7 linked regions of the Homo sapiens genome follow. The protein of the gene in region 3 purifies or fractionates together with the protein of the main gene of each other region. This does not show direct contact. Each region holds a gene or a part of one and is shown on either strand. Other genes may lie near its edges.

Region 1 (3,500 bases), on a different chromosome or scaffold from region 3:
GAGGGAGAACTGCTGTTAGCATGTTGTCACACTTCTGTCTCAGTCTCCTCTTTGCTGTATACAGTAGCTAAGAGAATACAGTGTTTGAAGTCAGATCTCGATTTGCCTCCTCTTTTGGCCAGTTTCTAATTGACCATGGGCAGTTTGGAACCTACATTTTTTCCTTTGTGAAATGGGCACAATGATAGTAACTACATCAGAATTTTGTTGGGATTAAACAAAATAGTACTTGTAGAACTTTTAGCACAGTGCCTGAAACTGAGTAAAGGCTAAAAAGAAGGTAGCTCACACCATAGGAACTGTCATGGATGAGAATGTACTGTATGCTTGATTTAACATTTTGACTTTTTCTACATAAAGTTACTTTGTAAACATTTCTCCCTACTTAAAAAAAATAGACATTTTAAAATGGCTATGTTGGAGTCAATTATGTGAATTAACCATAATTTACGTGGCTATTGTTGGGTAGATTTTCTTTTTCCCTTTTTTTTTTTTTAATTATTTTTTTTGAAACAGAGTCTTGCTGTTTCACCTAGGCTGGAGTGCAGTGGTGCGATCTTGGTTCACTGCAACCTCTGCCTCCTGGGTTCAAGCGATTCTCCTGCCTCAGCCTCCCGAGTAGCTGTGACTACAGGCGTGTGCCACCACACCTGGCTAATTTTTGTATTTTTAGTAGAGACAGAGTTAGACGGAGTTTTGCTACGTTGGCCAGGCTGGTCTTGAACTCCTGACCTCAAGTATACACCCGTCTCTGCCTCCCAAAGTGCTGAGATTACAGGCGTGAACTGCTGTGCCCAGCCTTATTTTTCCCTTTAATGCAGATTATTTCAGCATTAATGTTTATCACCTCTTTATGTATAAACCTTTCTTTATTTTCTAATTTATTGCCTTAAGAAAGATTCTTTGAGGTAGAATTACTTAATCAAAGAGCACAGTTATTTTTAAGGTTCTTGATAAGTACTGCCAGACTGCATGCTATGGGGCTCTACCAGTTTGCCTTCCCATTGAAAGGTGTCAGTTTCAGTCCATTCTTAGACACAATGGTTTATTTGTTTTTTTTTTCCAGACTCTGTCAGTTTGGTAGTGGGTAATATCTCTACCTAGTTTGTTTTGAGGAAGTGTTTTTGTGTTTAGTCATTGTCTTCTTTTTTTTTTTTTTGAGACTCTCATCCTTTCATCCAGGCTGGAGTTCAGTGGCGCGATCTTGGCTCACTGCAACCTCCGCCTCCCAGGTTCAAGCGATTCTCCTGCTTCAGCCTCCCAAGTAGCTGGGACTACAGGCACATGTCACCATGCCCAGCTAATTTTTGTATTTTTAGTAGAGACGGGGTTTTACCATGTTGGCCAGGCTGGTCTCGAACTGTTGACCTCAAGTGACCTGTTTGCCTCGGCCTCCTAAAGTGCTGGGGTTACAGACATGAGCAACCACACCTGGCCTCGTTTCTTATAAATATTCTTTATTATGTCCTTGTCTATTGGAGACTTTTTAAATAATCTTGGTATATTAGTTCCTGACATATTGAGAATTTCAAACCTTTATATGTTAGATTTATTGTAGGTTTTCCCCAGCTTTCTGTGCATAGAAGTTTTGAATTTTTATATAGTCAAATCTGTGAATCTTTTCCTTCATTATTTTTACTGCTTTTTTAATAGTAAGTAGTTAACAGAGAGAGACAAATGTTTATCTATATTTTTACTTCATAGTATTTTAAGGTTTGCTCTTTTTTTTTTTTTTGAGATGGAGTTTTGCTCTTCTTGCCTGGGCTAGAGTGTAGTGGTGCGATCTTGGCTCACTGCAGCTTCTGCTTCCCAGGTTCAAGTGATTCACCTGCCTCAGCCTCCTGAGTAGATGGGATTACAGGCTCCTGCCACCACGCTGGACTAATTTTGTGTTTTTAGTAGAGGCAGGGTTCCACCACGTTGGCCAGGCTGGTCTCGAGCTCCCGACCTTCAGTGATCCGCCTGTGTCTGCCTCCCAAAGTGCTGGGATTGCAGGCATGAGCCACCGTGCCCGGCCTTTTTTTTTTTTTTTTTTTTTGAGACAGTCTCACTCTTTTGCCCAGGCTGGAGTACAGTGCCACAATCTGGGCTCATTTCAACCTCTGCCTCCTGGGTTCAAGTGGTTCTTCTGCCTCAGCCTCCTGAGTAGCTGGGATTACAGGTGTGTGCCACCCCGCCCAGCTAATTTCTGTATTTTTAGTAGAGATGGTGTTTCACCACGTTGGCCAAGATGGTCTGGATCTCTTGACCTCGTGATCCACCTGCCTCAGCCTCTCAAAGTGCTGGGATTACAGGCGTGAGCCACCACGCTGGGCCTAAGGTTTGCTCTTTATGTATTTAACTCTTTGATTTACTTGGGGTTTATTTTGGAGAATTTCATAAACTGTGTGCAGATAAGTCATGATGAATTTTCTCAAATAGTAGCTCTCCAAAGTGTAAACCAGATGATCTGAAATGTTGGCAACTACTTTTTTGTTCTTTTAGGAAGAACAGAGAAGATGCATTTGAAATGTTCACATCTTAAAAATCTTGACCTATATTGTTTCATTAAACATTTTTCTCCAAGTGCTAAAAGCAGCAGCTATTTATATTAACTCTTTAAAAGTTATTTAAAATATGCTGTTCTGTTTTTGTAGGGTTGACATGATGAACAATCGGTTTCGGAAGGATATGATGAAAAATGCTAGTGAAAGTAAACTTTCGAAAGACAACCTTAAAAAGAGACTTAAAGAAGAGTAAGTGTCTTTTTTCATATGATTTACCAAGAGGTGTATGTAACCAATGCCCAGTCATTAACCGTAACCGCTTCTTGTGTAGTTTTCCATTTTGAAACAGTAAGAGGATTGCTATTGTGGGCAGTGACTAAATTTCTGTAGTTTTTTTTAGGGGAGAGGGGACAAAACACAGACACAAAGAAAATTTGGAAAAAAATTCTTACCACTCAAATATAATCAGTGATAATATTGCTTACTTGTTCATTTGCATATGGTACACCATAATTTTATAATATGAACATTTTCAAAAATTTAAATGGCCACCACCTGGGTTCAATGGTTTTTAACATTTTGTCATATTTGCTTTGTGTATTTGGGGGATGTGTGTGCTTTCCCAATGTATTTGAGAGTAAGGTACAGATAATGCGACACTTAACTCATTAATTTGTCAATGTGCATCTCTTAAGATTAAGGATGTTTTCCTTCATATTCACAATACCATTGTCATACCTAAGAAAATTAACAGTTTACGGCTAGTCCATGTTAGTTTCTCCAATTGTTGTAAGGTGCATACATTTTATTTGGATTTTATGTCCTTTAAATTTATATATTTTTTTGAGGTAGGATCTCACTCTGTCACCCAGGCTGAAATGGAGTGGTGCTGTCATGGCTCATTGCAACCTCTATCTCCTGGGCTCCCCATAGCTGGGACTACAGGCATGTACCACCTTAATTTTTAAAATTTTTTTGTAGGAATGGGGTTTCACTATGTTGCTCAGGCTGGTC
Region 2 (3,500 bases), on a different chromosome or scaffold from region 3:
TAGTGGGCGAGTAACCAAGGGCAATGAGAGGGAGGAGACATGAGTTCCCATAGCAAAAAAGGCTCATTGTGATGTGCACAGCACGTCTACTCGCTTTTCAATATATATATGTATATATTTTTGAGACAGAGTCTCACTCTGTCGCCCAGGCTGGAGTGCAGTGGCACAATCTCAGCTCACTGCAACCTCTGCCTCCTGGGTTCAAGCAATTCTCCTGCCTCAGCCTCCCGAGAAGCTAGGATTACAGGCTCCCACCACCATGCCCAGCCAATTTTTGTATTTTTAGTAGAGACAGGGTTTCACCATGTTGACCAGGCTGGTCTCGAACTCCTGACCTCAAATGATCCGCCTGTCTCAGCCTCGCAAAGTGCTGGGATTACAGGTGTGAGCCATCACACCCGGCCTTTTCAAAATATTTCACACCAAATCGGTTTCCAGTTCACTATTTTCATGGCGAAAAGGGCTTTGGCCCCGCCCAATCTCGGAGGTCTCCCTTGGGGAAGAGCAGATTCTTTAAGATGCATACTGAGCCATGTATACGTCATTCTTTTTTTATTTGCATTTTCTATTTTCTTAAACAGAAGACACAGAACATAACTTTTTTCAGAGCTGGATGTGATCTCAAATGGTGATCTTGAGCCGTCTCATTTTTTAGAGAGAAGAAAACTGAGGCACAGACAGCTACCCAGCAAGTCATGGCAGAACCACCTGACTGCCCAGAGCACTTTCTCTTCAGAACTTTTAAATGCAACTCTTTTTGAATACATAATACTTACACATGGTACAAAATTCAAGAAGTCCAAAACAGTGGCCTTCGCCAGATCAATTTCAGTGGATTATTAGAGCCTGAAGCCAAATTATGATAGATTGAAGGGTAAGGGTCTAGAAGGAGGGAAAAGAGTTTCTCTAACTTCGGTGGTAGTGTGATACCTCTCCCTTGGATATTTGCACCATCAGCGCTCTCAGTAGTTGTAGAAAAAAATCTTGGCCCATTGAGAGATTTTAAATTGTTAAGCATATAAAAGAAGTGTGTGAGTTTGTGAGTGTGTGTATGTGCGAATGGCAAGGGAACCTTCCTTGAACTTTCAATGGACACTGCCCAGGTGGCTGCTGTTACTGCTCTTCACAGGGCTGGCGGTCAGTTGTCCAGCAAGTCAGTCCTTCTGCAGACTTCTGAGTGCTGCCATGTATCAGGCACCAAAGTAATTTTAAAAAGAGAAAGATAGGCCAGGCGTGGTGATTCAGGCCTGTAATCCCAGCACTTTGGGAGGCTGAGGCGGGCAGATTGCTTGAGTCAAGCAGTTCAAGACCAGCCTGGTCAACATGGTGAAACCCTGTCTTTACTAAAAATACAAAAATTACCTGGCCGTGGTGATGCATGGCTGTAATCTCAGCTACTCAGGAGGCTGAAGCACGAGAATTGCTTGAACCTGGGAGTTGGAGTTTGCAGTGAGCCGAGATTGCGCCGCTGCACTCCAGCCTGGGTGAAAAAGCGAGACTCCATCCCAAAAAAAAAAAGAAAAAAGATACAGAAGACAGAATCCCACATACAAGGAGCACACGAACTTATTGGGGAAGTAGACATAAAAGAAATGATCATAGTGCAGTCTGAGAATTACTGTTTTTTAAAACTATGTACAAGTTTTACAGAGAGAGGATATATTAGGCTGTTCTTTTTTTTTTTTTTTTTCTTTTCTTTTTGGAAACAAGAGTCTTGCTCTGTTGCCCAGCCTGGAGTGCAGTGGCGCAATCTCGCTCACTACAACCTCCACCTCCCGGGTTCAAGCAATTCTTATGCCTCAGCCTCCCGAGTAGCTGGGATTACAGGCACACACCACCACGCCCGGCTAGTTTTTATATTTTTAGTAAAGATGAGGTTTCACCATGTTTGGTCAGGCCGGTCTCCTGACTTCAAATGATCTGCCCACCTTGGCCTCTCAAAGTGCTAAGATTATAGGCATGAACCACCACTCTGAGCCAGGCTATTTTTGCATTGCTATAAAGGAGTACGAGAGACTGGATAATTTATAAAGAAAAAGAGGTTTAATTGCCTCATGGTTCTGCAGGTTTTACAGAAAGCATGATGCCAGCTACTCAGCTTCTAGGGAGGCTTCAGGACACTTACAATCATGGTAGAAGGTGAAGGGGGAGCAGGCACGTCCTATGTCGAAAGGATCAAGAGAAAGGGAATGGGGAGGTGCTACACACTTTTAAGTCACCAGATCTCACGAGAACTCACTCACTATCTCAAAGACAGTACCAATGGGATAGTGCTAAACCATTCAGGAGAAATCCACCTCCAAGATCTAATAATCACCTCCCACCAGGCCCCACCTCCAACACTGCGGATTACACTTCAACATGAAATTTGTGCAGAATGTCTAAACCATCTCAGGGGGTAACTTCACTCTGTCCAAAAGGCTCAGGGAAGGCTTCAGAGCAGAAGTAATGCTTTGAGGTGAGTCTCGAAGAGCAAACAGGAATTTGCCAGGCAGAGAAAGACCATGCTGTGAGTCAGTCCCGCTTTTCTCCATTAAGTAAACAATTTACTGTTAAAGTTTTCCCCAGAGTAGTAACCACTTACTAAGACAGAGCTGTGAGCTGTTTCTGCTTCTTCTGCAACTCTAATTGTCCCTTGTTTGTAAGTTGAGTACTTTATGAAGCCGCTGCCTTTCTCCATACTGCAAACCCTACAGCACAGCCCCCAAAGGTTGCATAAAACTCAGCGAGCTTACAAGATAATGTTAGGCCATTGGACCCACTCTCTGTTAACAGCCCAGACTTTAAACTTTGCTGACTTGGGCACACGTGGAGGGGCCCTGGGCACTAAGATAGATAAGAAGCCCTTCTGGGATGGGTGCTGAGCTCAGTGTTTAGGGCCTTCACTTCCCCTCTCCTCCTCCATTCCCAGCCCCACACCGCTGTCTTGGTGGATGTCTCAGGCACGGATAAATCAACTTCCATCTCTCCATGACTTTAATTAATGACTCTTTTGTGCTAAGGGTTTTGGCTTCCTCCTTTTTCAGACCACAACATGACAGAACCCATTTTAACTTTAACCTTGCTACATATTTCAGGTGACTCACTGCAGTCTCACTAAATGTGTTACACAGCACTCACACTAAAGATGAAAAATTCCATTAGCTCATCCTGGTTCTTCTGCTTACTTACCTAATCATCTGTTTATGATTTAAAAAAATAGGGTTACTGTGAAGAGAGTGCTTGTGTGTGAGACAGAGAGGGAGGGTTGTTTTTCAAATGTATAGAATATACCAATGTAGTTTTTGGTTGGGTATTTTTTTAAATCATGACTTTATTAAATTTACTTAATTAATATTCATTTTTATCCTTTTTTTATGTTTTTAAAGTTTTTATTATTTATTAATTTATTTGAGATAAGGTCTTGCTCTGTCACCCAGGCTGGAGTGCAGTGGTGCAATCACGGCTCATACAGCCTTGACCTTCCAGACTCAAATGATTGTCCCACCTCACCTTCCCGA
Region 3 (3,500 bases):
CTTGGTATATTGTCCAAGCTTGTCTTGAACTCCTGGACTCAAGCAATCTTCCCAACTCAGCCTCCCAAAGTGCTGAGATAACAGGCGGGAGCCACCATGCAGGCCTAAAGTTGGTTTTTAGGAGCCATACGCTGAGGTTTCCGTGGTGGCCACCGTAAGTCCATGTCTCCTCTCCACCCAGGGCCTTCACCGCCCTGTGCTACTCTGCAGACGGCCACAGCATCCTGGCGGGAGGCATGTCCAAGTTCGTGTGCATCTACCACGTCCGTGAGCAGATTCTCATGAAGAGGTTCGAGATCTCTTGCAACCTGTCTTTGGACGCCATGGAGGTGAGCCGCCAGCGCGGGGCCGGATGGATGTTGCTTCCAATGCAGGTGGAATGCGTCGGGCTCCTGCGTTCTGCACTCCTGGCTCCATGGGGCCTTGGGCACAGTTGTGGTGCTTGTCCTGTATCTAAGTGCACGGGCCCCTCACCTGCCCCAGCAGAGTCCGGCCGTGAAGCCAGCACCTGCCTCAGCTGTGTGTGGAGCCACGGTCCCCAACCCTTTTGGCATTTGGGACCGGTTTCGTGGAAGGCAATTTTTCCACAGACAGGGTTGGGGGGATTGATTTTGGGATGAAACTGTTTCACCTCAGATCAAGATCACCAGGCATTAGATTCTCAGAAGGAGGGTGCAACCTAGATCCCTCACGTGTCGTTCACAATAGGGTTCGCACTCCTGTGAGAATCTAATGCTGCCACTGATCTGTCAGGAGGCGGAGCTCAGGTGGTGATGCGAGCAATGGGGAGCGGCTGTAAATTCAGATGAAGCTTCACTCATTCACCTGCCCACCACTCACCTCCTGCCGTGCAGCCTGTTTCCTAACAGACCATGGGCCAGTACCAGGGGTTGGGAACCACTGCTGTGGATGACCCTGCCGAGGCTGGTTGCTAGGAGGCTGGAGCTGTGAGGGGCAGTGCCCAGCACACGCTGGCTCAGGAGACACGGACATCTGTCAGGGAAGGAGTGAACGAAGAGGGTGCTGGTAGGCCCTGCCCGATGGCTTCCTGCCCGGGGTCCTGTGTACAAGGCTCTGCCTTCACTGTCCCCACTGGTGCCTGCCCTTCCCCCTCAGCACAGCCCTCGGCTCAGGTCCCACTCACATGCTGGCTCCTGCAGGACCTCAGAATGAGAGTGAGGAAGCCCTGGTAGCCTCTAAGCAGGGGTGTGGCTGCTGGGTTCACCTGTCCACGCCCCATCGGGGCAGAAGCCCACTGTCCCCTAAATGTTTCTGGGGGAAAGTGTCCTTGGCATTTTCACAAGGGAGTAGACGGCCATCCTCGCTGTGAGCCCCAGCCTTTGTGATGGTGGCAGCAATGCCAGCATGTAGACCTCAGTCCATCCCCCTCCGCAGCCTCCGCACCTGCCCTGCTCCACAGCTTCCACACCCACCCTGTCTGCAGCTAGCTCTGCAGGAAGAGTCCCTGGGGCACTGCAGGGCTCTCTCCCCGTCCTTGTTCTAGACAGGGCTGAGGCTTGTCTGGTGTTGGGGTCAAAGAGCAAGGGTAGGAGACGAGGGCCAGGCGGCCAGGCCATCAGAAGCAAGGCGTCCACTGCTTTTGCTGTTCTAGGAATTTTTGAACCGAAGAAAAATGACAGAGTTTGGCAACCTGGCACTAATTGATCAGGATGCTGGGCAGGAGGATGGAGTCGCGATACCACTGCCAGGCGTCAGGAAAGGTGAGCAGAGGTTCCTCCCGCATCTGCCCACCACTCACCGGTCCTGGGTGACCACGCATTCATGCCCCTGGTTGGGGCTGCAGTGTGTGGAAATAACAGTTACTACATGGTGACATTTGCTGGACACTGGGGGTGTCAAAGGCCCAGTGGGTTGGTGCTGGTGCCGTCAGCCCCTGGGCAGGAGAAGCTGCCCATGTGTTGCTACACGTGGCCTCCCTGCCCTGGCGGGACCCGTCCATTTGCTCTTGGGACTGGGTGCCCCGTCTGCTGCACAGCACACGGAGCATTCTGGCGTGAGGCCATGTGCGCCGCACAGAGAGCCAGGTGCTCTAGAAGATCTGGGTCCCAGGTAGACCATCCTGATGGGACACTCGCCAGCCAGAAACCCTGAGTGCTTCCATATGCAGGCCCAGGGTACCGTGTTGAGCACAGCAGACCCACTCCTGGGCTGGGCTGGGGCCCTTTTCTGGGTTGGACACACAGTCTGCTGGCCGGGCTGGCTTTTTTGAGCATCTGCCCCATGGGCTGGGCCATCTGTTTGGCAGCTCACCCGGAACAGCCTCCGCGGCCCCAGCACGGGCCCACCTGCCGCAGCTGCAGCGAGGGAAGGGCTGCTTCTGCCTCCGCTTTGTGCAGGACCCAATGAGTAGAGGCTGCTGCTCTTGATGGGGCTCCCACAGCACCCCCCAGCCAGCCGGGAGACCGCAGGATGACTTGCTTCGTGGGGAGAGCAGCCTGGATATGCTGTCCAGTGATCATTAACGGTTCTTTTTTCCCCAGGTGACATGAGTTCTCGGCACTTCAAACCTGAGATCAGGGTGACCTCACTCCGCTTCTCTCCCACTGGTGAGCACTGAGCCATGGGCTTTTGGTGCCGGTGGGCACTGGGGCATCTGTGCCATAGCAAGGCTGGCCACCATGGAGCTGTCTGCAGGCTCTGGGCTGTGCCCTGTGCCCCTGGGTAAGAACATGGCCCTGCAAACCCTGCAGGCCACAAGATGGCTGTTGTCCCTGAGGATGGATGGCTGTCACGGTGCCAACCTCAGATGCACTGAGCTTTGAAACATGGCAGGCCTGGTATGCCCTTGCTCTAGCAGCTCCCCGAGTGCCCTGGACGTGCTGCCTGGGGGCGGCTCTGCCATCACGGAGAGCCCGTCTCCTGCGCACTGCCCCCATCCTCTCGCAGTGGGGAGGAGGGTCTGTGCCACAGGCCTGTGGAGCCTGGCGGTGCACATGGTCCCCACACAGAGGAGCCAGGAGCAGGGCTATTGGCAAGCGTGCTCCAGCCTAGACTGAGTGTCAGAGCCAGGGGCAGAGAGGCCCATGTGAGCCAGGGGTCTGTGCCCTCGGGCCCAAGGGCCAAATCTGGCTGGCCACCTGCTTTGGTCACTGATGTTTTACTGGGACATTTTACTGGGCGTTTTTTTGTTGGCGGATCCTTCTGGCTGTCTCTAGTGATCCGTGCAGCACTGAGTAGGTGCAGCAGAGACCACAGGGCCTGCGGAGCTGAAGACGCCTGAGCTAGACAGAAGACTTGGCTGGCTCCCGGCGTCAAGAGAGGAGGACGCATGCGTGTACATATTTGCTTATATGTGCATCCCTGGGAGAGTAACTTCTGGGATGATCCATTCATTCCTTCCCAGGGGAGTAGTGGGGTGGGGGCTAGAGGCAGACGTCCCGGTTCCTCCTGATTTTTGCACTTTGTCCCAGGGGAATGTACTTAATACTGTTTCTTTAAAAAAAAAAAAAAAGAAAAAAAATGTTGGGAGGAATGAGCTT
Region 4 (3,500 bases), on a different chromosome or scaffold from region 3:
GAAAGACATTTGATAAAATTCAATATTCATTTCTAATTTTTTTTTTCACTCCTAGCGGAATATAAATACATTTAAGCCAAAAACTGCCATCATGCATGATGCATGCATCATTCTAGAAACATCCCTTTAAGATCAGGAATAAGACAAGATGTCCAGTATTACAATTACCACTGTTGATTAACATTCTTTTAGACGCATAGGCCAGTGTAACTACAAAAGATAAAGATAAGAGATGAGGAAAACTGCCAGGTGCGGTGGCTCATGCCTGTAATCCCAACACTTTGGGAGACCAAGGCAGGAGGATTGCTTGAGCTCAGGAGTTCGAGACCAGCCTGGGCAACATGGTAAGACCTCGTCTCTACAAAAAATACAAAAATTAGTCAGGCGTGGTTGCACGCGCCTGTGGTCCCAGTTATTTGGGAGTCCAAGGTAAGAGGATTGCTTGAGCCTAGGAGGTGGAGGTTGCAGTGAGCTGAGATCACGCAACTGCTCTCCAGCCTAGGCAACTGAGCGAGACTGTCTCAAAAAAAAAAAAAAAAAAAAAAGATTAGGAATACTGCAGATGTATTTATATTCCACTAAGAGTGAAAAATGAAAGTGTTGGTATTTGGAGAGGAAACCGAATGGATAAACTGAATTGATATTAGGAAAATAAGAGAATTCTGTAAGGTAGCTGAAAAGGCTGGCATTTTATACACTGAAGTCATCATTGTTGTCTTTTAAAAGTTAGAGATAATGGCCAGGCATGGTGGCTCACGCCTGTAATCCCAGCACTTGGTGAAACCCCGTCTCTACTAAAAAATACAAAAATTAGCCGGGCGTGGTGGCACACGCCTGTAATTCCAGCTACTCGGGAGGCTGAGGCAGGAGAATTGCTCAGGAGACGGAGGTTGCAGTGAGCTGAGATCACACCACTGCACTCCAGCCTAGGCGACAGAGCGAGACTCTGCTTCAAAAAAATTTTAAAAAAAGAAGTTAGAGTAAGAATTTGAGTTTGGAGTCAAAAGGGTCAGACTCCATCAGATACTAATATTCTAATCAAAGAATTACTTGACTTGCGAATAGATAGATCACTTGAATAGAATAGAGCCCAGAAACAAACTCAAAAGCTTCTGGGGGCGTTTAGTATATTATAAACATGGCATTTTAAATTAATCAGGAAAAGAAATTGTTTGCAGCTCACCCCACCATAGGCAGCAGAAATAGGAAGTCATCGACAGAATAAAAAGATGGCAAGAACAGAATCGTAGAACAGTACGTTTCTTGCTTTCCCACTTTTTAAATTATTTTTTGCTTTTACACAAATATAAGATTTTATTTTCTAAATGTATACTAGTTATTTTATCTCTTTCTTAGATGAATGAAAAAATTGCATCTTTAGAAAAAGAGTTGTTAGAAAAAAAGCCGTGGCAGCTTCAGGGGGAAGTGACAGCACAGAAGAGGCCAGAGAACAGCCTCCTGGAGGAGACCCTACACTTTGACCATGCTGTCCGGATGGGTATGGTGCCCTCTTCTGTAGTTTTCATGTCTGTGCTTTTTCCATGGTTCCATTTCATACAAAGATTTGGGGTGGTGTTTCTTTTCCCTCAACTTTTTATTTTAAAAACTTGTAAACACATGGCTTGGCATGGTAGCTCACACCTGTAATCCCGGCACTTTGGGAGGCCGAGGCAGACGGATCACCTGAGGTCAGGAGTTTGAGACCAGCCTGGCCAACATGGTGAAACCCCGTCTCTACTAAAAATACAAAAATCAGCCAGATACGGTGGCAGATTTCAGAATCCCATCTACTCGGAAGGCTGAGGCAGGAGAATTGCTTGAACCCAGAAAGGGGAGGTTGCAGTGAGCCAAGGTTGTGCCAGTGTGCTCCAGCGTGGGCAGCCTGGGCAACAGAGCGACACTCTGTCAAAAAAGAAAAAATCAACTTATAAACACAGAAGAGTTGAAAAAATACTACAGTGAACACCTATATGCTATTCAATTGGATTCACCAGTTACCATTTTGTTATATTTGCTTTCTCTCCCTAGCATATGTAAGATTGTATATGTGCCCTTTTTTTAAGTAAGTTGCCAATCTCATGGCACTTCACTTTTAAGTACTTTTGCAGATATCGTCTAAGAACTAGGACATTCTCCTATGTAATCACAGTACCATTAATCCACCCAAAAAATTTAACAATACGCTAATGATACCTAATGTATAGTTTGTAATCAGCTTTCTTGTAGTAATCTGTTTTGAAGGCTTGCATCCTGTCATGGTCCACTGATTAAATTTTGAACTTCAACCTGAAACTGTGGTCATCTCATTGACTTCTTTCTTGTACCCATTACATCAAAATGAGTTTTCATTTTATTTCAATGGAAGAGAGAATGGAAAAGAGGGGAAGAGTCCCTGGGTACCTTGGGTAAAGTATTAGCACTTACTACCATATGTATCCTAGTTTTGTGGTTTTCAAACTTCAGGGAGCATCACAAGGCTTGTTAAAGCACAGATAGCTGTCCCTCTTCCCCACTTTCTGATTCAGGAAGTATGGGGGTGGCCCAGGAATTTGCATTTCTAACAAGTTCCCACGTGTTGCTGATGCTGTGGGTCCAAGGACTGCACTGAATCAATGGTCTAGTGGATATCTACCTAATGAATAAACGTTGTATATCCTTTAGCACCTGTGATTACAGAGGAAACCACCCTTCAACTGGAAGATATCATTAAACAGAGGATAAGAGATCAGGTCAGTAAGAATTAAATTTAACTTAATCAAAATGTCACCAAGATTTTTAGAAATAATGTGAGAGTACTTTGAGAGTAGGACTATTGCTTTTTATTTTCACTTAGTGTTCACAAACCTTAAATCTAGGCTACCTAGTCAGCTTTTGTTGTGTGAGGTACTGCTCTTCAGTAGTATCCAGGAAAGACGAGTATTGTGCCTGAGAGGAGCAAGAAGCCATTATCCTTTCTCGTGAGTCTTGCTGACCTTTTGGGCGGTGCTCAGTGAAGCTGGTGGCTGACCTGTGATGGTTGCACCCAGAACCCTTGGCTTAGGCACAGTATCTGGTGTGGTAAATTATTCAGTATATATGTCCTAGTCTTTTTTCTGTTACTTATAACAGAATATCTGAAGCTGGGTGACTTAAAAGGAATACAGTTATGGAGGCTGAGAAGTCCAAGGTCGAGGGGCCTTCTTACCAGTGGGGATTCCGCAGAGTCCCAAGGTGGTGCAGGGCATCACATGGTGAAAGGGCTGAGCATGCTAAGATGCTGGCTCAGGTGTCTCTTGCTCTTCTTAAGAGCCACCATTCCCCCACTGATGATAACCCATTAATCCATAAATGCAACTGCCATTCATGAGGGCAAAACCCTGGTGATCCAGTCACGTCCTAGAAGGCCCCACATCTGAGTGTTGCCACATCAGGGATTAAGTTTCCACATGAGTTTTGGAGGGGACATTCAAACCCTAGCATTGTGGTAGTTCTACAATTTTAAAACCATTTCTCAATGGTGT
Region 5 (3,500 bases), on a different chromosome or scaffold from region 3:
TTTTAGTTCTTGGGCTTCATAGTGGATTTATGAGAGCTTGTTGTATTATTAAAGTATTACTTTAATGGAGTCACATGGATTAAAGTTCTCTGAATAGTGCCTGGTCCCCAACAGGTATTCGGCAAACATTTGTGGCATTTTATGCCGACTCAAAAGTGATAGCTGGAGGATACATTAGGAAGGACTCTTCTAGTGGCAAGTGGCAGAAATCCAGGGTAAACTGACTTAAACAACAAAAAATTGTTCAGTTAGCTGGGAGAGTCAAGGGGTGATATGAGCTTCAGTAATGGCCGGATCCCAGGCCTCAAGCAGTGTCAGCAGGATGCTGCCTCTCTGCTGTCTCTGCTTTGTTTTCTTGACTTCCTTCTCAAGCAGGCTCTCTCTCTCCATACAAGGCCACCAGGAGTCCCAGGCTTTTGCCTTCTGTGGGCTTAGTGATCATTCACTAAGTGATAGTTCTGGCAGACATCTTGATGATGTCACTGATCAGGTCTGGCTCATCTTTTGAGCTGAGATCAGGCAGGTGGAGGGGGAAGTCCTAGTCAACCCACACAGATGATTCCCCAGAGAAGAGATATTATTTTATCAGAAGAAAAATGCTGGACAAGCAAAACAACAGATATCTAGTATAGAGAAACTTCAAATTTCCCTCCTATTGAATGAGGACTATATAATGAGAATGGAAGAGATTTGAGAATCAGAAAAATCATAGTTTGAATGCAACATTTTTCTGTGTCTTTATAGATACCGGGACTACCGTGACCCGCCTCATTCACTGGTGCCCTATGGCTACACACTGCAGTTTTGGCATGTCCTAGCTGCTCGATTAGCTTTTATCATTGTCTTTGAGGTAAGTTTCCTCAGCCAAATTCTTTATTTCCTTTGACATAATGAAGTCAGTAGGAGTAATGAATAAAAATAAGTGATGGGGATTTTGAATGTGATTATCTATATTTCCAGAAGTAGTAGTGTCATATTATGTAACCTCTTTTTGATCTTTTTTCTTAATTGAAGTATTTGATTTTTCCAAGACATATTTGAAAGTCCATAGTTGGTTTTTAATGGACAAATCTGAACTCGTTGCTCCTAAATGTAATTTTCTGGGGCCATAGTTCTTAAACTTTAGCAAAAATGCAGTTTTTCCATCCTCACTCCCAGATATTCTGACATACCATGTCTGTGGCTTGTTTTTCATGAGCTCGTTGTAATGATTCTGACTATAGGCATTCTGGGACCATAATTTGGAAACATTTGGAAAACATCAGCCCAGTAAGATTCATTCTTTTTTTCTTTTTCTTTTTCAACTTTTATTTTAGATACAGTGGGTACATGTGCAAGTTTGTTACAAAGTTACATTGCATGATGTTGAGGTTTGGGGTGCGACTGAACCCACCACCCAGGTAGCGAGCATAGTATTCAATAGGTAGTTATTCAGCCCTTGTCCCCTCCCCCTCTCCCCTCTATAGTAGTCCCCAGTGTCTGTTGTTCTCATCTTTATGTCCATGTGTACCCAGTGTTTAGCTTCCACTCTAAGTACGTACAATAAGAACTTGCAGTGTTTAGTTTTCAGTTTCTACATTATTTCACTTAAGATAATGGCCTCCAGCTACATCCATGTTGCTGCAAAGGACATGGTTTCATTCTTTTTTATGGCCACATAGTATTCCATGGTGTATACATACCACATTTTCTCTATCTGGTCCACCATTGATGGGCACCCAGGTTGATTCCATGTCTTTGCTATTGTGAATAGTCCTGTGATTGACATATGAGTACATGTGTCTTTTTGGTAGAATGCTTTATTTTCTTTTGAGTATATACCCAGAAATGGGATTGCTGGGTTGAATGGTAGTTAAGCCCTTTGTTCTTTGAGAAATCTCCAGACTACACAGTAGTTGGACTAATTTACCTTTCCACCAACAGTGTGCAGGTGTCCCCTTTTCTCTGAAGCCTCGCCAGCATCTGTTAATTTGTTTACTTTTTTTTTTTTTTTTTTTTTTTTTTTAAGACTGATTCTCTCTCTGTCGCCCAGGCTGGAGTGCAATGGCACAATCTCGGCTCACTGCAACCTCTGCCTCCCAGGTTCAAGTAATTCTCTGCCTCAGCCTCCTGAGTAGGTGGGATTACAGGCACCCGCTACCACACCTGGCTAATTTTTGTATTTTTAGTGGAGACGGGGTTTCACTGTCTTGGCCAGGCTGGTCTTAACCTGACCTCATGATCCATCCGCCTTGGCCTCCCAAAGTGCTGGGATTACAGGCGTGAGCCACTGCACTTGGCCTGACTTTCTAATAAAAGCCGTACTGACTGGTGTGAGATGGTGTCTCATTGTGGTTTTGATTTGCATTTCTCTAATTTCCTTAGAGATTCTGAGCATTTTTTCATATTATTGTTGTCTGCTTCTATATCTTCTTTTGAGAAGTATCTGTTTGTGTCCTTTGACCACTTTTTAATGGGGTTATTTGTTTTTTACATGTTGATTTGTTTAAGTTCCTTACAGATTCTGGGTATTAGACCTTTATTGGGTGCATAGTTTGCAAATATTTTCTCCCATTCTGTACGGTGTCTGTTTACTTCTTTGACAGTTTCTCTTGCTGTGCAGAAGCTCTTTAATTAGATTTGACTTAGCAATTTTTGTTTTTGTTGCAATTGCTTTTCAGGACTTCACCATAAATTCTTTGCCCAGGCCAGTATTGAGAAGGGTATTTCCTAGGTTTTCTTCTAGCATTTTTATAGTTGAGGTCTTACATGTAAGTCTTTAATTCATCTTGAGTTAAATTTTGTTTATGATGATAGGTAGAAGTCCAGTTTCATTCTTCTGCATATGGATAGCCAGTTATCTCAGCACCATTTATTGAACAAGGAATCCTTCCCCCACTGCTTGTTTTTGTCAAGTTGGAGATTCACTCTTTCTAAATGTCTCCAATTATTGCCATCATCATTACCACACATATTGAAATATACTGATTCATATAGTTAATTTATGATTTTCAAATAGTTATCAGGATTTCCCAACATGATCATAAGCATTTTCCAATAGGACTGGGTATTACAAGTGGTATTTCTGGTTGTGTATCATCACGGAATTATTTATATTCAAGCATCCAAGTAAGTATTTATTAGCTAAGACTCAAAATGGAATTATAAAGTAAAATCTGTCTAGCAATTGTCTATATTATATGTCAATAAAAATATATTATCTATTTTCTTTCAGGGTTTAAGAAAATTGCTGTAAAAATAGTTTGCATTTCTATGACTCTAGTCATAAGTGGAAATTTCATCTCTTGTCACATATATTAAAGCCAGATTAATAAAAGCCAAGGTTGCCTCTCGGCTTGGATCTAAAGTTTCCTAGACCTCTTCAAGACTATTCTATCACTGCTTTTTCCTTCAGTCCAGGGAACCAAAAGAAGAAAATATTAAGCTGCTCTTCCCTGGAAATTATCTTACCAATGGCACACTCTCTCTTTAAAGAAGATATTTTTAACCCATCACTGTCT
Region 6 (3,500 bases), on a different chromosome or scaffold from region 3:
ATAATCATGGTGTTTTCCTTTTGTTCTGTAAGTGGGGTTACATTAATTTATTTTTCAGCTGTTAAGGTAATCTCATTCTTGCAGTAAACTGCGATGACATGATACCCTTTAATATATCATTGGTATAGTATTTTGCTTAAGAATTTTCATCTGTCGTGAAATCGGCTTTTTTTTATATATATATAATATTTTTGGTATAGTATTTAAATGTTTAGAAAAATTTATCAGTGAAGCTATCTTGGCCTAAAGGATATTTGTTTGTCCAGCTTTTCTAGTTGTCAACAGAGGAGTTGGTCAGCAACAAACTAATCAGATATCACTGGAAAAAAAATTCCTGAACCAGTGATCATTTGTCTTCAGAGTATATTAAAAGATACGAAGACACTTTTTGTAGCTTTAAATGAGTTTATTTCTCTAGTACGGTAGCAAAAACAAAAGTGTTAATTATATTTTTCTTTCTCTTTTTTCCTCAAAACACCATCCTTTTAATTTCCTTGAATGGATATGAAGGCACCAGTCTGCTGAGTGGCGGTCGTGAATCTGTACTTGTAGAGTGGCGCGATGCAACAGAGAAGAATAAGGAGTTTCTCCCGCGTTTAGGAGCTACTATTGAACATATCTCAGTCTCGCCTGCAGGAGATTTATTCTGCACTTCTCACTCTGATAATAGTAAGTCTAAATTTTTTATTATGAGGAAATATATAAACACCATAAATTAGCTAGCATCTGTAGGGAACAGAGAATAAAGAGACCTAAAACTAAGAGTAGCGTATGAGATTTAATGAGCCTTCTTTTCCTTGCATTACTCCTCTCTTTTCCACCCCTCTCTACCCCTAGGCACCACCAGAATTCAACATTTTTGAGAATTATTTTTATAAAATGGAAGGCTAAGTGTATTTGGTTATTGATGTGCCACTTACATTTTCAAAGTCTTTTAGTGTGGGATGACATGAGGAAATAAAGGGAAGGTTTGGAAGTGGACATTGGTGCTTTCATAAACCTTCCGTTTTCAAAAGAATACTGCAAGATTCTCTTTTGATACAGCTGTTACCTGGGGGCAAGAGTCCTGTAGATTTGATAGAAATAGAGGCAGTCTTATATTTCTCCAAAACTTTGTTCATCCAGTGACTACTCAGCCTAGACTAGGATATCTTTGTAAATCCACTTCCTTTTCTTTCAAAAAAGAACATAACTGTGAGCAGTCCATTTAGTGGCATGAAAAAGTTAAACTATTTTTATTAGATATACTCTATAGATTTTGCATTAACACTTAAAATGTGTTCATAGGCACAACTGATAAAAACTTAAAGACTCCAACAGAAAAGCCCCTATCCCCACCCCTAGATTTTCCACTAACTCACAAAATGTATTCCTGATTTTCTAGTAGTACTCTGAGTTCATTGAACTTACTGGGTTGTTTTGTATTCTGGTATATTTCAGAATATAAACTCAGGTGACTCCTTCACCTTGAAGCTCTAACCCAGGGGTGTCCAATCTTTTGGCTTCCCTGAGCCACATTGGAAAAAGAATTGTCTTGGGCCAGACATAAAATATACTAACACTAATGATAGCTGATGAGCTAAAAATAATAATAATAATAATGTTTTCAGAAAGTTTATGAATTTGTGTTAGGCTGCATAAAAAGCCACCCTGAGCCACAGGTTGGACAAGCTTTCTCTAACCTATTGATATTTAAATACCTATTTTTTTCTACCCACAGAGATAATAATTATTCACCGAAACCTTGAAGCATCCGCAGTAATTCAAGGCCTAGTGAAAGGTATTGCAGAACTCAGTGGATTTGGAATCATGAACATTTTAAAGAGTGCATATTTCTCTTATTTCACCTGTTATTTGTCACCACTTCTGCAGATAGGAGTATCTTCACTGGTTTGATGATTGATCCAAGAACTAAAGCTTTGGTTTTGAATGGAAAACCTGGCCACCTGCAGTTTTATTCTCTCCAGAGTGATAAACAGTTATACAATGTAAGATTTTGATCATTAGCCTTGAAATTAATGAAAGCTCTTTACAGTACCACTGGAGTCAAGCAATTTGTTTAGTAGCTTTTAAAACAAGATCCTGTGCATATGTTTACTTGAACATAGTATTATCCGTGGTTACTTAGTTCAGTTGTTCAGAGCATAATTCCATTGAGGCCACAGTTGCAGGTTACATGTAAGCCAGTTGGCACTCCTGTACGTGCTGTCTCTGTCTTTTGTTTCAGAATGCCCTCCTATTAGCTATCCCATACATCTGTGCTTTTGAGTCACAAGGATAAAGAAACAAAAATAGGTAGATTGACAGTACAAATTTGTATCTGCTTCGTGGTGAAACACTATCATATTCACATATTGAAGATAAAATTTTCAGTGTAGATTAAAGAGGAACACTTCTTCCAATCCTGATAAGTCCAATCCAGATGTCCCACTTTTCTTGTTCCCCACAGTACTCTTTACAGATCTCTGTCATAGCAACTGTGACACTAGCTCTTTCTCACCGTGGCCTTTAGACCCCTCAAAAAAAAGGAAGCATATTAATCATTTTATGCTTATCTCAAGTATAATGCCTGTAAATTGTAGGCATTTAGTACACTTAATAGTAGGCATTTTATTTACTTAGTATAGGCAAGGAAATGGGATTTTTTTTAAAACAACCATAAATAAATGCTGGCCTACTTACATTGGCTATCTTTTTTCATTTCTTAAAGATTGTAGGTTTATTTCTGTTCTGCTTGTTTCTGTTGACAGAGAATCTAGCCTTGAGATGATGTAAAGCTGTTTGTTCTTAGAAACAAAAGAAAAGCACTACTATAAATTAACGGTTCTGTTGTATCATATAGTGGGTGTTAGTAATCGCTAATATTCAAGGTCATTGAAGAATAATTACCACCAAATTGATACTATTATAATGTGTTCCCTTTTTTAATGGCAATTTTGGTGTCCATAGTAACAATTAGTTCATTTTTGCCTTTATTTAAAAATCTATTACTATACAGTACAGAAGTTGTCTTGGATGTAGTTAATTATCATTTCTTGAATGCTGTAACATTTGTGTATTTATGTTAATAAACATTTTGGTTTTTTGGTTTTTTTTACTCATCAGTTAGATATTATACAGCAAGAATATATTAATGATTATGGTCTGATCCAAATTGAACTAACAAAGGCTGCATTTGGCTGCTTTGGTAACTGGCTTGCAACAGTGGAACAGCGGCAAGAAAAGGAAACTGAGCTTGAATTGCAAATGAAACTGTGGATGTATAATAAGAAAACACAAGGGTAATACTATCTGTGTAGCCACTTAATTTCAAAGTATAAAATATTTCACTTCCCATTTTACAGTTTCAATTGTCTTTAAGATGTTTCATCTTGACAAGGTTTAGATTTAGAGATATGGGAGAGGTTTTATTCTAATAAAACCTTTAAGCTTTCTGCTCTGAGAAGACATTGATGTCCTCTAAGTCATAATGTCATCTCATAATGAATAAAGAAACATGG
Region 7 (3,500 bases), on a different chromosome or scaffold from region 3:
CAACATGGTGAAACTTTGTCTCTACTAAAAATACAAAACTTAGCCAGGCATGGTGGCCTGCACCTGTAATCCAGCTACTCGGGCAGCTGAGACAGGAGAATCACTTAAACCCGGAAGGTGGAGGTTGCAGCGAGCTGAGGTCACAGCATTGCATTTCAGCCTGGGCAACAAAGCAAGATTCCATCTCAAAAAAAAAAAAACATTAAAACAAAAATGTCATACCATATTAACTATAATTTTGCAAATTGTGTTTTCTTTTTTTTTTGAGATGGAGTCTTGCTCTGTCGCCCAGGCTGGAGTAGTGGTGCAATCTTGGCTCACTGCGACCTCTGCTTCCCGGGTTCAAGCAATTCTCCTCCTTTAGCCTCCTGAGTAGCTGGGATTACAGGCATGCACCACCACACCTGGCTAATTTTGTATTTTTAGTAGAGACGGTTTCACCATGTTGGTCAGGCTGGTCTTGAACTCCTGACCTGATGATCCACCCGTCTTGGCCTCCGGAAGTGCTGGGATTACAGGCATAAGCCACCACACCCCATTTTGCAAATTTTGTATTCATTGAATTATAGATCATGGATATTTTTTCCATGTGAGTATAAGTACTTCTAACTCATTCTTTAACAGCATCACAAATACTGTGCCCAAAATGACAAGCATTACAAGTAGCAAAATTGAAAAACTGATAAATATATAAGGACCTAACTTGTTTTTTTATCTAAGTAGCAGGTCATTCAGCCTCTGACTGGAGCAGATTTTGGGAATACCCAAAGGCAAGGCCAAAATTTTCCTTAGGAAGTAACTTTGTGTCTGTTAAAATATTTGGATGTATTCCAAGTTAAAGACTTCCAGTTAACCTAGAGAGGGCAGAGGGAATAATTTGTTCCTAGAGACTTGATAGGAAAATCTGCCAGTGTCAAGTTTTCAGGCAAACAATGTATTTAAAATGTATTAAAGGTAGAGAATATTTTAAATGTTTTCTTCTTGGTCTTTACATTTTATATATATATATATACACACATATATATGTACATATACATATACACATGTACATGTACACATATATACATATATACACATACATGTATGTACATATATGTACATATACATATATACACATACATGTGCATATATGTATACATATGTGTATATATGTATACATGTGTGTACATATCTGTATATATACGTATATATGTATACATTTATACGTATATATGTGTATATATGTTGTTTTCAAATCAGTTGATATATGCAAAATTGCTAACAAATGCAAGTTGTATTCGTAACCTAATTTTTAAAGCAATTTTATTCTAGGTGTTACTAAGAGTACTGTATTTGAATATTGATGTTATTCATGAATGCCTCTATTATTTTCAGTTTGTATTCTGTTTCAGTTTTTAAATACTTCTCCTTCAGGGATCTGATGTGATGTATGCAGTTGAAGTTCCTGGACCCCCTACTGTCTTAGCACTACACAATGGAAATGGCGGTAATCAGGATTTTATTTTTCACAAATCAACTATGTGTTTTAATAGTAAGTGAAAATGGGAAATTGTAGAAAGGACATAAACTAGAATTGAGACAGTTGTCTTTCTGGTAACTTGCCAGTAACTAACAGCACGAGTTATTGAACTTTTAATTCTCCGTTTTTTTCTTTTTTGGGGGGCTGGGGGGCAGGGTCTCACTCTGTCTCCCAGGCTGGCGTGCAGTGGTACAATCTCAGCTCACCACGGCCTCGACCTCCCAGGCTCAAGGGATCCTCCCACCTCAGCCTCCCTAGTACTACAGGCGCACACCACCATGCCCGGCTAGGTTTTTGGTATTTTTTATAGAGACAGGGTTTCGCCATGTTGCCCAGGTTAGTCTGGAACTCCTGGGCTCAAGGGATCCTCTCACCTCAGTCTCCCAAAGTGCTGGGATTACAGGCATGAGCCACGGCACCCAACCTAGTTTCTTCATCTTAAAATTATATAATGGGGAAATGTCTTATCTCTTATAGCTATAAAATTGTGTGAATATATAACCATTCTCAACAATTAAGTTTTATATCTTTTTATAGTACTTTTTAAAATGATATTTTTACATAACAACATTTTAATTTTAAAGAGATTACTAATTGTAGGATAAATATAATATGTTGACTTTAATTATAAGTAGGTGACTCTGGAGAAGACCTTTTGTTTGGGACATCAGACGGAAAACTTGCGCTTATACAGATTACTACATCCAAACCAGTACGCAAGTGGGAAATTCAAAATGAGAAAAAGAGAGGAGGTATGCTTTTCATGTAGTTCAGATTCTGAGGTGTCAATGATTATTAAGTATCTTAAATTATATAATTTATTCTATTTTATCTATTTATACTACATAGCAGACTTAGCAATTCACACCTTGATTTATCTACTATTTGTTTATTTGTCAGGTCTATTATACTATTGGCATAATTTTTTAAAAGTAAGAAATGCTGATAGTAATTTGGTATTGATACGTTTTTATAGGCTAATATCATTTTATGCTAAAATCCAATTTTAATTGGATTTTAATTGTCTGAGGTAATTTAGTTGTTTGAGGTACAGAATTAATTGGAATCTGGGAGTCTTTGTTATGAGGCAAAGAAGAAGTGCAGTGGGTCAGAGAATATTCCTGTTTTCTAAGGAATTTATACCTTTCTAAGGAGAATTTATAACTGATTAGGTAGATAGTGAGATGCCTATGTATATGTTCAGGATGTTCATATATTCATTTATTCCTTCAACAAATACTTATTAGGAGAGACAGAGTAAAAACAAATAAATACATAAGACAGCTTTACCTAGTCACCTGAAGAAAATAAAACAGGGCTGTGTATTAGAGAGTGATGGTAGAAGGAGGAGGGTCACTTTTAGACCACGTAGTCAAAGATAGCCTCTTAGAAGAGGTGAAATTTGAACTGAGATCTGATTGATAAGAAAAAGAGTTAGCAATATGAAGATTTGGGGAAAAAAATGTTTCAGGAAGAGGAAAAAGTAAGTGTGAAAGATTTGAGGTGGAGGTAGATTTGATTCATTTGAGGAACAGTAGGAAGGTCAGTCAGTTTGGCTAAATGCGTTAACATGGCAGGAGATGGAGTCAGAGAGGTAGAGTAGAGCCAAATTGTGTAAGCCTTGGAAAACAGTTTGAATTTTAATCTAGGTGCTGTAGGAAGTCATTAGAAAATTGTCAGTGGGAGTGTGACACTTAATTTACTAAGCCTAAACAAAACAAAGGACACTGGAGAATGGATTGGAGGGGGCGGGGGGCAACAGGTCAAAACTGGAAGCATGGAGACCAGTTAGAAGAGTTATTATAATTTATTCTAGTCTAGGCTAGCTTAGTCTAGGCTATCAGTAGCTGGAAACATAGACAATTTCAGTATATATTGTGGAGGTAGAGAAGATGGAATTTGCTAGCAGTTTTGATATGAGGGGTGGTGAGAAAAAGAAAGAAATCAGATGTGGCCCAGAATTTTTGTCTGAGCAGCTAGG

The links.
Region 1: the proteins of PWP2 (region 3) and UTP18 purify together in Homo sapiens (affinity purification with mass spectrometry; one large-scale study listed by BioGRID and IntAct). This does not show direct contact.
Region 2: the proteins of PWP2 (region 3) and ENOSF1 purify together in Homo sapiens (affinity purification with mass spectrometry; one large-scale study listed by BioGRID and IntAct). This does not show direct contact.
Region 4: the proteins of PWP2 (region 3) and MPHOSPH10 fractionate together in Homo sapiens (co-fractionation; one large-scale study listed by BioGRID). This does not show direct contact.
Region 5: the proteins of PWP2 (region 3) and ANO4 purify together in Homo sapiens (affinity purification with mass spectrometry; one large-scale study listed by BioGRID and IntAct). This does not show direct contact.
Region 6: the proteins of PWP2 (region 3) and WDR75 purify together in Homo sapiens (affinity purification with mass spectrometry; one large-scale study listed by BioGRID and IntAct). This does not show direct contact.
Region 7: the proteins of PWP2 (region 3) and BBS7 purify together in Homo sapiens (affinity purification with mass spectrometry; 2 studies listed by BioGRID and IntAct, with this or other methods). This does not show direct contact.

What each region holds. Positions count from the first base shown.
Region 1 is NC_000017.11:51,263,546-51,267,045, forward strand, and holds part of UTP18 (U3 small nucleolar RNA-associated protein 18 homolog), read left to right. Parts: intron 1-2,636; coding exon 2,637-2,735; intron 2,736-3,500. UniProt on the Homo sapiens protein: Part of the small subunit (SSU) processome, first precursor of the small eukaryotic ribosomal subunit.
Region 2 is NC_000018.10:702,631-706,130, reverse strand, and holds part of ENOSF1 (mitochondrial enolase superfamily member 1), read left to right. Parts: intron 1-3,500. UniProt on the Homo sapiens protein: Plays a role in the catabolism of L-fucose, a sugar that is part of the carbohydrates that are attached to cellular glycoproteins.
Region 3 is NC_000021.9:44,124,399-44,127,898, forward strand, and holds part of PWP2 (periodic tryptophan protein 2 homolog), read left to right. Parts: intron 1-181; coding exon 182-329; intron 330-1,612; coding exon 1,613-1,721; intron 1,722-2,501; coding exon 2,502-2,567; intron 2,568-3,500. UniProt on the Homo sapiens protein: Part of the small subunit (SSU) processome, first precursor of the small eukaryotic ribosomal subunit.
Region 4 is NC_000002.12:71,137,134-71,140,633, forward strand, and holds part of MPHOSPH10 (U3 small nucleolar ribonucleoprotein protein MPP10), read left to right. Parts: intron 1-1,356; coding exon 1,357-1,498; intron 1,499-2,661; coding exon 2,662-2,729; intron 2,730-3,500. UniProt on the Homo sapiens protein: Component of the 60-80S U3 small nucleolar ribonucleoprotein (U3 snoRNP). Required for the early cleavages during pre-18S ribosomal RNA processing. Part of the small subunit (SSU) processome, first precursor of the small eukaryotic ribosomal subunit.
Region 5 is NC_000012.12:101,119,776-101,123,275, forward strand, and holds part of ANO4 (anoctamin-4), read left to right. Parts: intron 1-744; coding exon 745-850; intron 851-3,500. UniProt on the Homo sapiens protein: Has calcium-dependent phospholipid scramblase activity; scrambles phosphatidylserine, phosphatidylcholine and galactosylceramide. Does not exhibit calcium-activated chloride channel (CaCC) activity.
Region 6 is NC_000002.12:189,461,974-189,465,473, forward strand, and holds part of WDR75 (WD repeat-containing protein 75), read left to right. Parts: intron 1-510; coding exon 511-669; intron 670-1,720; coding exon 1,721-1,780; intron 1,781-1,872; coding exon 1,873-1,988; intron 1,989-3,105; coding exon 3,106-3,281; intron 3,282-3,500. UniProt on the Homo sapiens protein: Ribosome biogenesis factor. Part of the small subunit (SSU) processome, first precursor of the small eukaryotic ribosomal subunit.
Region 7 is NC_000004.12:121,853,475-121,856,974, reverse strand, and holds part of BBS7 (BBSome complex member BBS7), read left to right. Parts: intron 1-1,413; coding exon 1,414-1,486; coding exon of another isoform or gene 1,487-1,531; intron 1,532-2,151; coding exon of another isoform or gene 2,152-2,154; coding exon 2,155-2,271; intron 2,272-3,500.